Linked DNA regions of Homo sapiens: region 1 is linked to region 2. The links come from fine-mapping of genetic effects on gene expression. A gene starts in region 2. The other region holds a variant in brackets. All regions are shown on one strand. Distances are between the middles of the regions.

Region 1 (5,381 bases), 33 kb after region 2:
CATTTTTAATTTTTGTGGCTACATAGTAGGTATATATATTTATGGGGCACATGGGATATTGTGACACAGGCTTCAATGTGTAATAATCACGTCAAGGTAAATGGGGTATTCATCACCTCAAGCATTTTTCCTTTGTGTTAAAAACAATCCAATTATACTGTTTTAGTTATTTTTAAATGTACAATAAGGTATTGTTGACCATAGTCACCCTGTTGTGATACCAAATACCAGTTCTTATTCATTTATTATTATTATTATTATACTTTAAGTTTTAGGGTAGATATGCACAATGTGCCGGTTAGTTACATATGTATACATGTGCCATGCTGGTGTGCTGCACCCATTAACTTGTCATTTAACATTAGGTATATCTCCTAATGCTATCCCTCTCCCCTCCCCCCACCCCACAACAGTCCCCAGAGTGTGATGTTCCCCTTCCTGTGTCCATGTGTTCTCATTGTTCAATTCCCACCTATGAGTGAGAACATGCGGTGTTTGGTTTTTTGTCCTTGCGACAGTTTACTGAGAATGATGATTTCCAATTTCATCCATGTCCCTACAAAGGACATGAACTCATCATTTTTTATGGCTGCATAGTATTCCATGGTGTATATGTGCCACATTTTCTTAATTCAGTCTATCATTGTTGGACATTTGGGTTGGTTCCTAGTCTTTGCTATCTTGAATAGTGCTGCAATAAACATACGTGTGCATGTGTCTTTATAGCAGCATGATTTATAGTCCTTTGGGTATATACCCAGTAATGGGATGGCTGGGTCAAATGGTATTTCTAGTTCTAGATCCCTGAGGAATCACCACACTGACTCCCACAATGGTTGAACTAGTTTACAGTCCCACCAACAGTGTAAAAGTGTTCCTATTTCTCCACATCCTCTCCAGCACCTGTTGTTTCCTGACTTTTTAATGATTGCCATTCTAACTGGTGTGAGATGGTATCTCATTGTGGTTTTGATTTGCATTTCTCTGATGGCCAGTGATGATGAGCATTTTTTCATGTGTCTGTTGGCTGCATAAATGTCTTCTTTTGAGAAGTGTCTGTTCATATCCTTTGCCCACTTTTTGATGGGGTTTTTTTTTTCTTGTAAATTTGTTTGAGTTCATTGTAGATTCTGGATATTAGCCCTTTGTCAGATGTGTAGATTGCAAACATTTTCTCCCATTTTGTAGGTTGCCTGTTCACTCTGATGGTAGTTTCTTTTGCTGTGCCAGAAGCTCTTGAGTTTAATTAGATCCCATTTGTCAATTTTGGCTTTTGTTGCCATTGCTTTTGGTGTTTTAGACATGAAGTCCTTGCCCATGCCTATGTCCTGAATGGTAATGCCTAGGTTTTCTTCTAGGGTTTTTGTGGTTTTAGGTCTAACGTTCTTTAATCCATCTTGAATTGATTTTTGTATAAGGTGTAAGGAAGGGATCCAGTTTCAGCTTTCTACATATGGCTAGCCAGTTTTCCCAGCACCATTTATTAAATAGGGAATCCTTTCCCCATTTCTTGTTTTTCTCAGGTTTGTCAAAGATCAGATAGTTGTAGATATGTGGCGTTATTTCTGAGGGCTCTGTTCTGTTCCATTGATCTATATCTCTGTTTTGGTACCAGTACCATGCTGTTTTGGTTACTGTAGCCTTGTAGTATAGTTTGAAGTCAGGTAGCATGATGCCTCCAGCTTTGTTCTTTTGGCTTATGATTGACTTGGTGATGCGGGCTCTTTTTTGGTTCCATATGAACTTTAAAGTAGTTTTTTCCAATTCTGTGAAGAAAGTCATTGGTAGCTTGATGGGGATGGCATTGAATCTATAGATTACCTTGGGCAGTATGGCCATTTTCACGATATTGATTCTTCCTACCCATGAGCATGTAATGTTCTTCCATTTGTTTGTATCCTCTTTTATTTCATTGAGCAGTGGTTTATAGTTCTCCTTGAAGAGGTCCTTCACATCCCTTGTAAGATGGATTCCTAGGTATTTTATTCTCTTTGAAGCAATTGTGAATGGGAGTTCACTCATGATTTGGCTCTCTGTTTGTCTGTTATTGGTGTATAAGAATGCTTGTGATTTTTGCACATTGATTTTGTATCCTGAGACTTTGCTGAACGTGCTTATCAGCTTAAGGAGATTTTGGGCTGAGACAATGGGGTTTTCTATATTTTTGTACACATTCACCATCCCCACTCCCCAACCCTGCAAAGTACCCTTCCCAGATACTGGTAACCATCATTCTACTCTATATCTCTATGAGTTCAATTGTTTTAAAAATTTTTTAGCTCCCACAAATAAGTGAGAACATGCAAAATTTGTCTTTCTGTGCTATTTCACATAACATAATGACCTCCAGTTTCATCTAAGTTGTTGCAAATGACAGGATCTCCTTCTTGTTTTGGCTGAATAGTGCTCTATTATGTATAGTTACCATATTTTCTCTATCCATTCATTTGTTAATGGACACTTAGATTGCTTCCAAATATTGGTTATTGTGAATAGTGCTGCAGTAAAATTGGAAGTGCAGATATCTCTTCAATGTACTGATTCCTTTCTTTTGGGTTTATACCTAGCAGTGGGATTCTGGATCATACGGTAGTTCTATTTTTAGTTTTTTGAGGAATATCCAAACTTTTTCCCATAGCGGTTGTACTAATTTACATTCCCACCAACAGTGTACGGAAGTTCTCTTTTCTCCACATCATTGTCAGTATTTGTTATTGCCTA[C/T]GTTTTGGGTAAAAGCCACTTTAGCTGGGGTAAGATGCTATCTCATTGTAGTTTTGACTTGCATTTTTCTGATGATCAGTGATGTTGAGTACCTTTTCATATACCTGCTTGCCATTTGTATGTCTTCTTTTGAGAAATGTCTATTGAGATCTTTTGCACAGTTTTTAGGTTGGATTATTATATTTTTTCCTGTTGAGTTGTTTGGGCTCCTTATGCATTCTGGTTATTAATTTCTTGTTAGATGGATAATTTGCAAATATTTTTTCCTATTCAGTGGGTTGTCCTTCACTTTGTTGATTGTTTCCTTTGCTGTGCAGAAGCTTTTTAACTTGGTTTGATACCATTTGTCCATGTTTGCTTTGGTTGCCTGAGCTTGTGGGGTATTACTCAAGAAATCTTTGCTCAGTCTAATGTCCTGGAGAATTTGCACAATGTTTTCTTTCAGTAGTTTCATAGTTTGGGGTATTAGATATAAGTCTTTAATACATTTTTATTTGGTTTCGTCTATGGTAAGAGTTAGGGGTCTAGTTTCATTGTATAGATATCCAGTTTTCCCAGCACCATTTATTGAAGACTGCCCTTTCCTAAATGTATGTTCTTGGTATTTTTGTCAAAAAATAGTTCACTGTAGATGTATGGATTTATTTGTGGATTCACTGTTCCATTTTGTTGGTCTACATGTCTGTTGTTATGCCAGTACCATGTTATTTTGGGTACTGTAGCTCTGTAGTACATTTGAAGTCAGGTAATGTGATTCTTCCAATTTTGTACTTTTTGCTCAGGATTACCGTGAGTATTCTGGGTCTTTTGTGGTTTCATATAAATTTTAGGATTTTTTTTCTATTTCTGTGAAGAATGTTGTTGATATTTTGATAGTGATTGCACTGAATCTGTAGATTGCTTTTGGTAGTATGGACAGTTTAAGAATATTGATTCTTCCAATTCTTGAACATGGAATATCTTTCCATTTTTTTTGTATTACCTTCAACTTCCTACATCAATGTTTTACAGTTTTCATTGTAGAAATATTTCACTTCTTTGGTTAAGTTTATTCCTAGGTATTTTATTTTATTTGTAGCTATTGTAAATGGAGTTACTTTCATGATTTATTTGTCAGATTGTTAGCTGTTGGCAGATAGAAATGCTACTAATTTTTGTATGTTGATTTTTGTATCCTGCAACTTCACTGAATTTGTTTGTCAGTTCTAATAGTTTTCTTGGTGAAGTCTTTAGGTTTTTCCAAGTATAAGATCATATCATCTGCAAACAAGGATAATTTGACTTCTTCCTTTCCAATTTGCATGCTCTTTATTTCTTTCTCTCATCTGATTGCTCTAGCTAGGACTTCTAGTACTATGTTGAATAATAGTGATGAAAATGGGCATCCTTATCTTGTTTCAGCTCTTGGAGGAAAGGCTTTCACTTTTTCATTGTTCAGTATGATACTAGCTGTAGTCTGTCGTATATGGCTTTTATTGTGTTGAGGTATGTCATTTATACCTAGTTTTTGAAGTTTTTTTTTTTAACATGAAGGGATGTTGAATTTTATCAAGTGTTTTTTTCAGTATCAATTGAAATGATCATATGGTTTTTATCCTTCATTCTGTTGATATGATATATCCCACTGATTGATTTGCATATGTTGAATCATCTTTGCATCCCTGGGATGTATCCCACTTTGTCATGATTAATGATCTTATTAATGTGTTGTTGAATTTGGTTTGCTAGTGTTTTATTGAGGATAATATTTGCATCAATGTTCATCAGGGATATTGGCCTGTAGTTTTTTTTGGTGTGTCTTTGTCTGGTTTTGGTATCAGGGTAATACTGGCCTCACAGAATGAGTTTAGAAGTATTCCCTCCTCTTCTACTTTTTGGAGTAGTTTGAGTAGGATTGGTATTAGTTCTTTAAATGTTAGGTAGAATTCAGCAGTGAAGCTAACAAGCCCTGAGCTTTTCTATCCTGGGAGACTTTATTATGGCTTCAATCTCATTACTTGTTATTGGTCTATTCTGGTTTGGGATTTCTTCAGGATCAATCTTAGCAGGTTGTATATGTCTAAGAGTGTATCTATTTCTTCTGGGTTTTCCAATGTATTGTCATATATATTAGCTCAGAGTATTCACTAATTATCCTTTGAATTTATGTGGTATCAAGTGTAATAGTGTAATGTCTCCTTTTTTATCTGTGATTTTACTTATCTAGCTCTTCTTTCTTTTTTTCTTAGTCAGGCTAAAGATTTGTCACTTTATCTGTTCGTAAGAAAAACTTTGCTTTGATCTTTTGTATTTTTTATTTCAATTTCATTTATTTCTTCTCTGATATTATTTCTTTTCTTCTACTAATTTTGGGTTTGATTTACTCTTTTCTTTCTAATTCTTTAATCTACATCATTAGGTTGCTAATTTGCAGTTTTTCTGCTTTTCCGATGTAGGTGCTTATTGCTATAAACTTTCTTCTTAGTACTGCTTTTGCTATATCCCATAGGATTTTGTATGTTATATTTCCATTTTCCTTTGTTTCAACAAATTTTTAAATTTTCTTCTTAATGTCTTTATTGACCCAGTGGACATTCAGGAACATATTATCTAATTTCCAGGTATTTGTATAGTTTCCAAAGTCCCTTCTGTTATTGATTTCTGGTGTTTTTCCATTGTGG
Region 2 (5,381 bases):
AAACCTTGGAGTCATCCTTAACTCATCTTTCTCTCATACCTCACAGCCAATCCAACAGCCAATACTGGATAATTTGGAACCTTCACTGCTACCACTGTAATCTAAGTTACAATCGCCTTTTACGTGTATTATGGCCACAGCTCCTTCATTGGTCTCCTTAATGCCCCTGAAACTTCAGTCTTTGTACTTCTTCCTGCTGCCTGAAATACTTTTATTCCAAAAAAAACTAGGTCTGTCACTTCCTTGAGGTCTCTTGAATTTCATCCTATTAGAAAGACTTGCCCTGACCATCCTATCTATACACGATACTAATGTTAGAAAATACTAATAAAGATATTAACAACCACCATCTCTGCGTTATTCTATTCTTCTGGCCATGATTTTTATCACCACCTGATGTATTTACAAGCTTATCTTCCGCTACAATGTAAGCTTCAGGAGGGCAGACACTTTGCTGATTTTATTCACTGCTGTATCACCAGTGTCCACAGTAGCCACAAGCAGACATCAGACATGCAGTAGACACTTAAATATTTAAAACTGAAAAGAAAATTATTTGATGGCTAACAGATTAGCATAAAATTTAAAACTTTTTCCTAAAGAATTTGAAACAAGGAATTAAAATTCTTTGGGAAGTACACATTTTGAGAGCTTTGCTAGATTTAATTTTTTAAATTGAGTCTATCCACAATTTAAATCAGACTAAATTCTAGTAAATGTGTCCTCTTTAAGGGGTGTGAGTTATACGTCTGAAACATATTTAACTGTATTTAAAAGAGTAGCATTATACAGTGTCAAATCCTCATAAGCATCTAGAATTATAGGTAATGAGCACTAGGACAAACAAAAATACCAAGGGCTCTAGTCCTCTATTGCAGTCAATGTTAAAAGTGTACAAGTGTCTCACACATCAAAATTCATTTCACACCCTCAATCACTCATTCTTCTTGCACCTTGTCTTTGAACTATTAGAAGCTAGTGAATTTAAATCAAAACATTATTTTAACTATAAAGGCTCAACGTCTACAATATATCATATTTTAGGGAAGGAAGGGAAGAAAAGGGTTAAGGCAGCTAGCTTATTACTCACCATGCAGATTTTAGAACTTAGAAATCAAAAGCTAGAAGGAATTTACCATCTCTAAAGTGTTACTTGCTTGTTGATATGGAAATGCTCAGATTGAACCAGATGATTTTTAAGGTCTCTCTAGGCCACAGCATTCTATTATTCTAGCTATCTTAAATCTGGAATGCTTATCCCGGAAGAAAAAGCAGCTGGGAGTACTAGGTCAGACAGCACCTGGTTATTTACTAGTTGTGCAAGTTTCTTAACCTCAGTAAGGCTGCTTCCTCACATATATAAAAGGGGTTAATAACATCTATCTGGCAAAGTTATGGAAAAGACTGGAGATAATATGTCAAATGCATTACAAAGTGCTTGACAGGTTTTTCATAATATAGGCAGCTATTACCTTGCTCTAGCTCTACTACTCTTTTGCCAGGGATAGTGCAATGTAGGATCAACTGTGCCAACAAAATTGGGGCAAAGGCAAGGAAAGTAGTAAAGCCACAGAACAGATTTACATTTCAGCACCAATTTGGTATGCATATTAGAAAATTATTTTTGTTTTCTTTTTACAAAAGAGAATGTTGTTGCTACCGTGACCGTAAACACCAGATTGTTTATAATTCATGTTGTGAAATTTACATCTGTTCACAGATTTACTGAGTTGGCATAACATGGGTGATGACTGTGGGAAACGGCCCAAGTTCCTTAGTACTGACACTTCCTTGATTGTAGAATATCGAGAGGTAGTCAACTTTTCCCCTTAAAGTATATTTAAAACATACTACTGTGACTACAGCCATAACAATATCCCCGCATCTCTCCTTGATCTACAGCTGGTGCTTCCCATTTTGAAAAAGAGTGAAAACCCCCCAACCCTAGGTTTCTTGTGGTCTTGGCAAAGTCTCAACGCCAACTGGCGATCTCCATTTCCCCCGCGGGCTGCCAAGCCCAGGACAGTCCTTTCAGGGAGAAAGAGGGCCGGAGGGAACTGTGTTGGCAGCTCTCTGGGTTGAAGGACAGGAAAAGGAAACTCCCTTCTTGGACTCCGAGGGGAGGGTGAGAGACGAAAGGAAAGGGTGGGGGGTAGTGCAAGAATGGCCTGTGTCTCGGTTACCGCAAAGGACTCGCAAGCCTCCGCCAGCCCCGGGGTGGAGGCCACAGGAGCACTGACGTCGTGGTATCAGAAAGGCGGACAGTGCAGCCTTAGTGTTCCCCAGGGGTGGGAGGAAGCTCCCGGCCCCGTCCCCACCCCGCCTCGCTTCCCAGGGAGCGGCGGTTGGGCAGGAGCGGGGCAGAAATCCGCCGCCGGGCCCGGGGAGGGGACCAGGCCGCGCCCATCTCCCAGGCCTCTGGCTGCAGCAGGCCCGCTGGGTGGTCGGCGAGGCCCGGGGGCGCCGCGTCGAGCTGCGGTCCCCTCCCTCAACCTTCCCGGGCGCCGCCACCCCTTTTCCCCCCAGCACCAGGGTACCTGCACGGCGCGACTGAGGAAGGTGCCTGCGTCGGCCGCCAGCTTCTTCACGTTGAAGTCCATGATATTCATCCTAGGCGGCAGCCGGGCGGAGCCGGCCGACCTAGCGGCGGCGAGGCGGAGGTGCCGCGGCCGGGCTGGGGCGCAGGGCTAGAGCGGCGAGGGCAGACGTGGTAGGTGGAGGGAGGCGGCGCCAGCCCCGCAGCCGCAGCTGTCGTTTCCGTGAACGGGGAGGATGAAGGCGGGGCGAGGGAGGAGAACAAGCGCGCGGCGGCAGCGCCAAGGATGGGTCAGTCGGCTCGGAGAACGGCCGCTAACGTCGACGATGGGCCCCGCGGGCGAGCCGGAGATGGACGGGCGACCCCGCCGTGTGGACCCGGGTCCCAAGGGAAAAACAAGCGCGGGCCGCGGGGCGGAGCCTTTCTCGAGGTTATCGCGGGAACAGCGACCCCTTGAGGATTGCGGCGGCGCAGCCCCGGGGCGCGCCGGGAGCTCCGCCCGGCTCCTGTGGAGGAAGCGGCGAGGGCGAGCCGCGGGGTCTCGGCGCCTCTGTATGCTTGCACTTAACGAGAACCCAGAGCGAACACGACCCACATTTCTCTTTTTGTTTTAAGAGGAAATATAGGAGTTACAGCATAGAATTACAATATCTGGACATTAGAAATAACAGGTCCCGGTCACGGTATGGCACCGCGCGACACACTTGGTCCCTGAGGCCTGGATGCCGCTCAGCAAACGTTCGCGGAATAGGGTTGGGTTTACTGTCCCCCACCGAGCCGGTTGCTCATTCATTCAGCATAATTGAATACCTCCTGTGTGCCAGGCACTGAATCAAGTGTCGGAGACAATGTCCTGCCCTCAAGCTCCTGGCCGGTTACTTGACAACCTTCCGGGACCTCAACGCTATGTGCCTACTGTGTGAAAGCAAAGTGCCAGGTGGAGGACACAAAGATGGCGAGCGACACAGGATAGTCCTTAACAATTAAGCGTGACTAATTTTAATAACAAATGAGAATATGATGTGACATCCGTTCCAAATCCTGTCGTTCCAAGTAACTTCTTAAGCATCTTTCACGATACAGCCTCTGCTTGAAAGGAATTAAAACAGGTACAAGCATGGAAGGAGACGTTGCTATCATATTTCAAGAATAAGAAAATGCTGTTTTGTGTGGTTGTGCAGCAGGCAATGAAATGAGCTTACATTCAAGCTTCCGTGTTTTACTGAAACAACAGTCACAGATGCAGTAGATGTTAAAGGTTGAAAGACGAGTGCAGTAAAAGCATTATGAGGACAAGAAGAAAACGTAAATATTTGTGTTGTTTCATTCTTTGTTGTGGTGGCAGAAACAGCCCCCTCTTTCTAAGGTAACTCCAATATAATGATCTCTCCCAGCTTTGAAATACTCCATGTCTGTTTCATTTTCCAGAAATATGGAAAAATGAATATATAATAAAAAACCCTATTTCTCATTTATTGTCTATTTTAGATCTTTATGTGGAAAAGCACTTACTCTCTTCCCAGAGCACTGTTTTTAAAGTAGGTATATTTGCCATAACCTATGCTCGTCTCTACAAAAGGATCACACCACCGTGTCCACCATTAAAGGGGAAATTCTTTAATGGTGGACACAGTGGTGTCCCTGAATCCTCATCCTCAAGTGTTTCAATCTTCCCAGTCTTGGGAAAACAACAATGTTACTTCTTTCTTTTGCACCCTCTGTAGCTGTAATCCTGTTTCCCCATTCTCCATAAAAGACTTACCTTATTTTCATATATCCTTATTCTTAGCCTTTGACACTTTTTTTTTTGAGACAGAGTTTTGCTGTGTCACCCAGGCTGGAGTGCAATGGTGTGATCTCAGCTCACTGCAACCTCTGCCTCCTGGGTTCAAGGATTCTCCTGCCTCAGCCTTCCAAGTAGCTGGGATTACAAGCATGCATCACCACGCCCGGCTAATTTTTTATATCTTTAGTAGAGACAGAGTTTCACCATGTGGGCCAGGCTGGTCTCGAACTCCTGGCCTCAAGTGATCCGCCTGCCACAGCCTCCCAAAGTGCTGGGATGACAGGTGTGAGCCACCGCACCCAGCTGATTCGCTTTCTTTACAGAGAAAATATAAATCATCACTCTGTTTGGCAGAAGCCTCTTCAACCAAATTTCCTTATTTCCACCTCCTGTTCTCTCCACACTCTTTCCTGCATCATTGCCAAATGTTTCAAAGGAATAGGTGTCTCAGGTGTTCTGAGTAGAGCCACTGCTCCCTTAATCTTGGCTGCACATCAGCATCACCTGGAGAGTTTAAGCAACCACTGATGCCTGGATCCAGTCCCAGAGTGTGGACTGGGCATTGGGATGTTTTAGGAGTTCCTCTAGGTGTTCTTAATGTGTGACCAAGGTTGAGAACTAATTTGTCACCCTCTAGAACTTGCTCCATCAGTCTCTACCCTTTGCCTACAGACTGATTCTACTTCTCTTACCAGATATCAGTCCCTTAAGGGCAGTGTCCGTTTCCTATTTATTTTTATATATTTTATGGTTTACACAGGCAACATAGTGAATTCCCAAATGATTTAGTAAGTGAAAAAAGTAATCAAATCAAGATGTTTACAGTGCTAAGCTCTTTTGTGACACCATCACCCCCAGCCTAAATTTCCAACTATTTATCCATAGATTCAATATTTCCAGTGGCAAGTCTGTTATAGTTTGCTTTTCCTGAAAATTCTTCTTTTCTTGGGTTTCCTACATTGATAAATTGAATCATACACACCAAATCACCTAAGCCAGAAATCTGAGTCCCCTTTGATTATTTCCTCTTATTTCCCACCACCAATTGGTCTATCCTGG

What was found. PIP is the estimated chance that this variant, and not a neighbour inherited with it, causes the effect.
Region 1: its variant is the best candidate, but not a certain one, in a credible set for the expression of CLCA4-AS1 in visceral fat (GTEx, PIP 0.89).

Annotation. Positions count from the first base shown.
Region 1 is chr1:86,668,893-86,674,273 of GRCh38, reverse strand. The region is part of intron 4 of CLCA4-AS1 (CLCA4 antisense RNA 1); the gene reads left to right. Among named protein-coding and RNA genes, the nearest start is that of CLCA4-AS1, 33 kb to the left of the region's middle. The variant C/T (reference allele first, on the strand shown) is at 2,722.
Region 2 is chr1:86,702,128-86,707,508 of GRCh38, reverse strand. CLCA4-AS1 (CLCA4 antisense RNA 1) reads left to right here and starts at 3,016. Exons shown (of 5, transcript NR_135837.1): 1 at 3,016-3,902. It overlaps SH3GLB1 (SH3 domain containing GRB2 like, endophilin B1), which reads right to left and starts at 2,933. Exons shown (of 9, transcript NM_016009.5): 1 at 2,538-2,933. The coding sequence starts at 2,609. RefSeq lists a silencer at 2,280-2,769 and enhancers at 2,594-3,095, 3,660-3,729.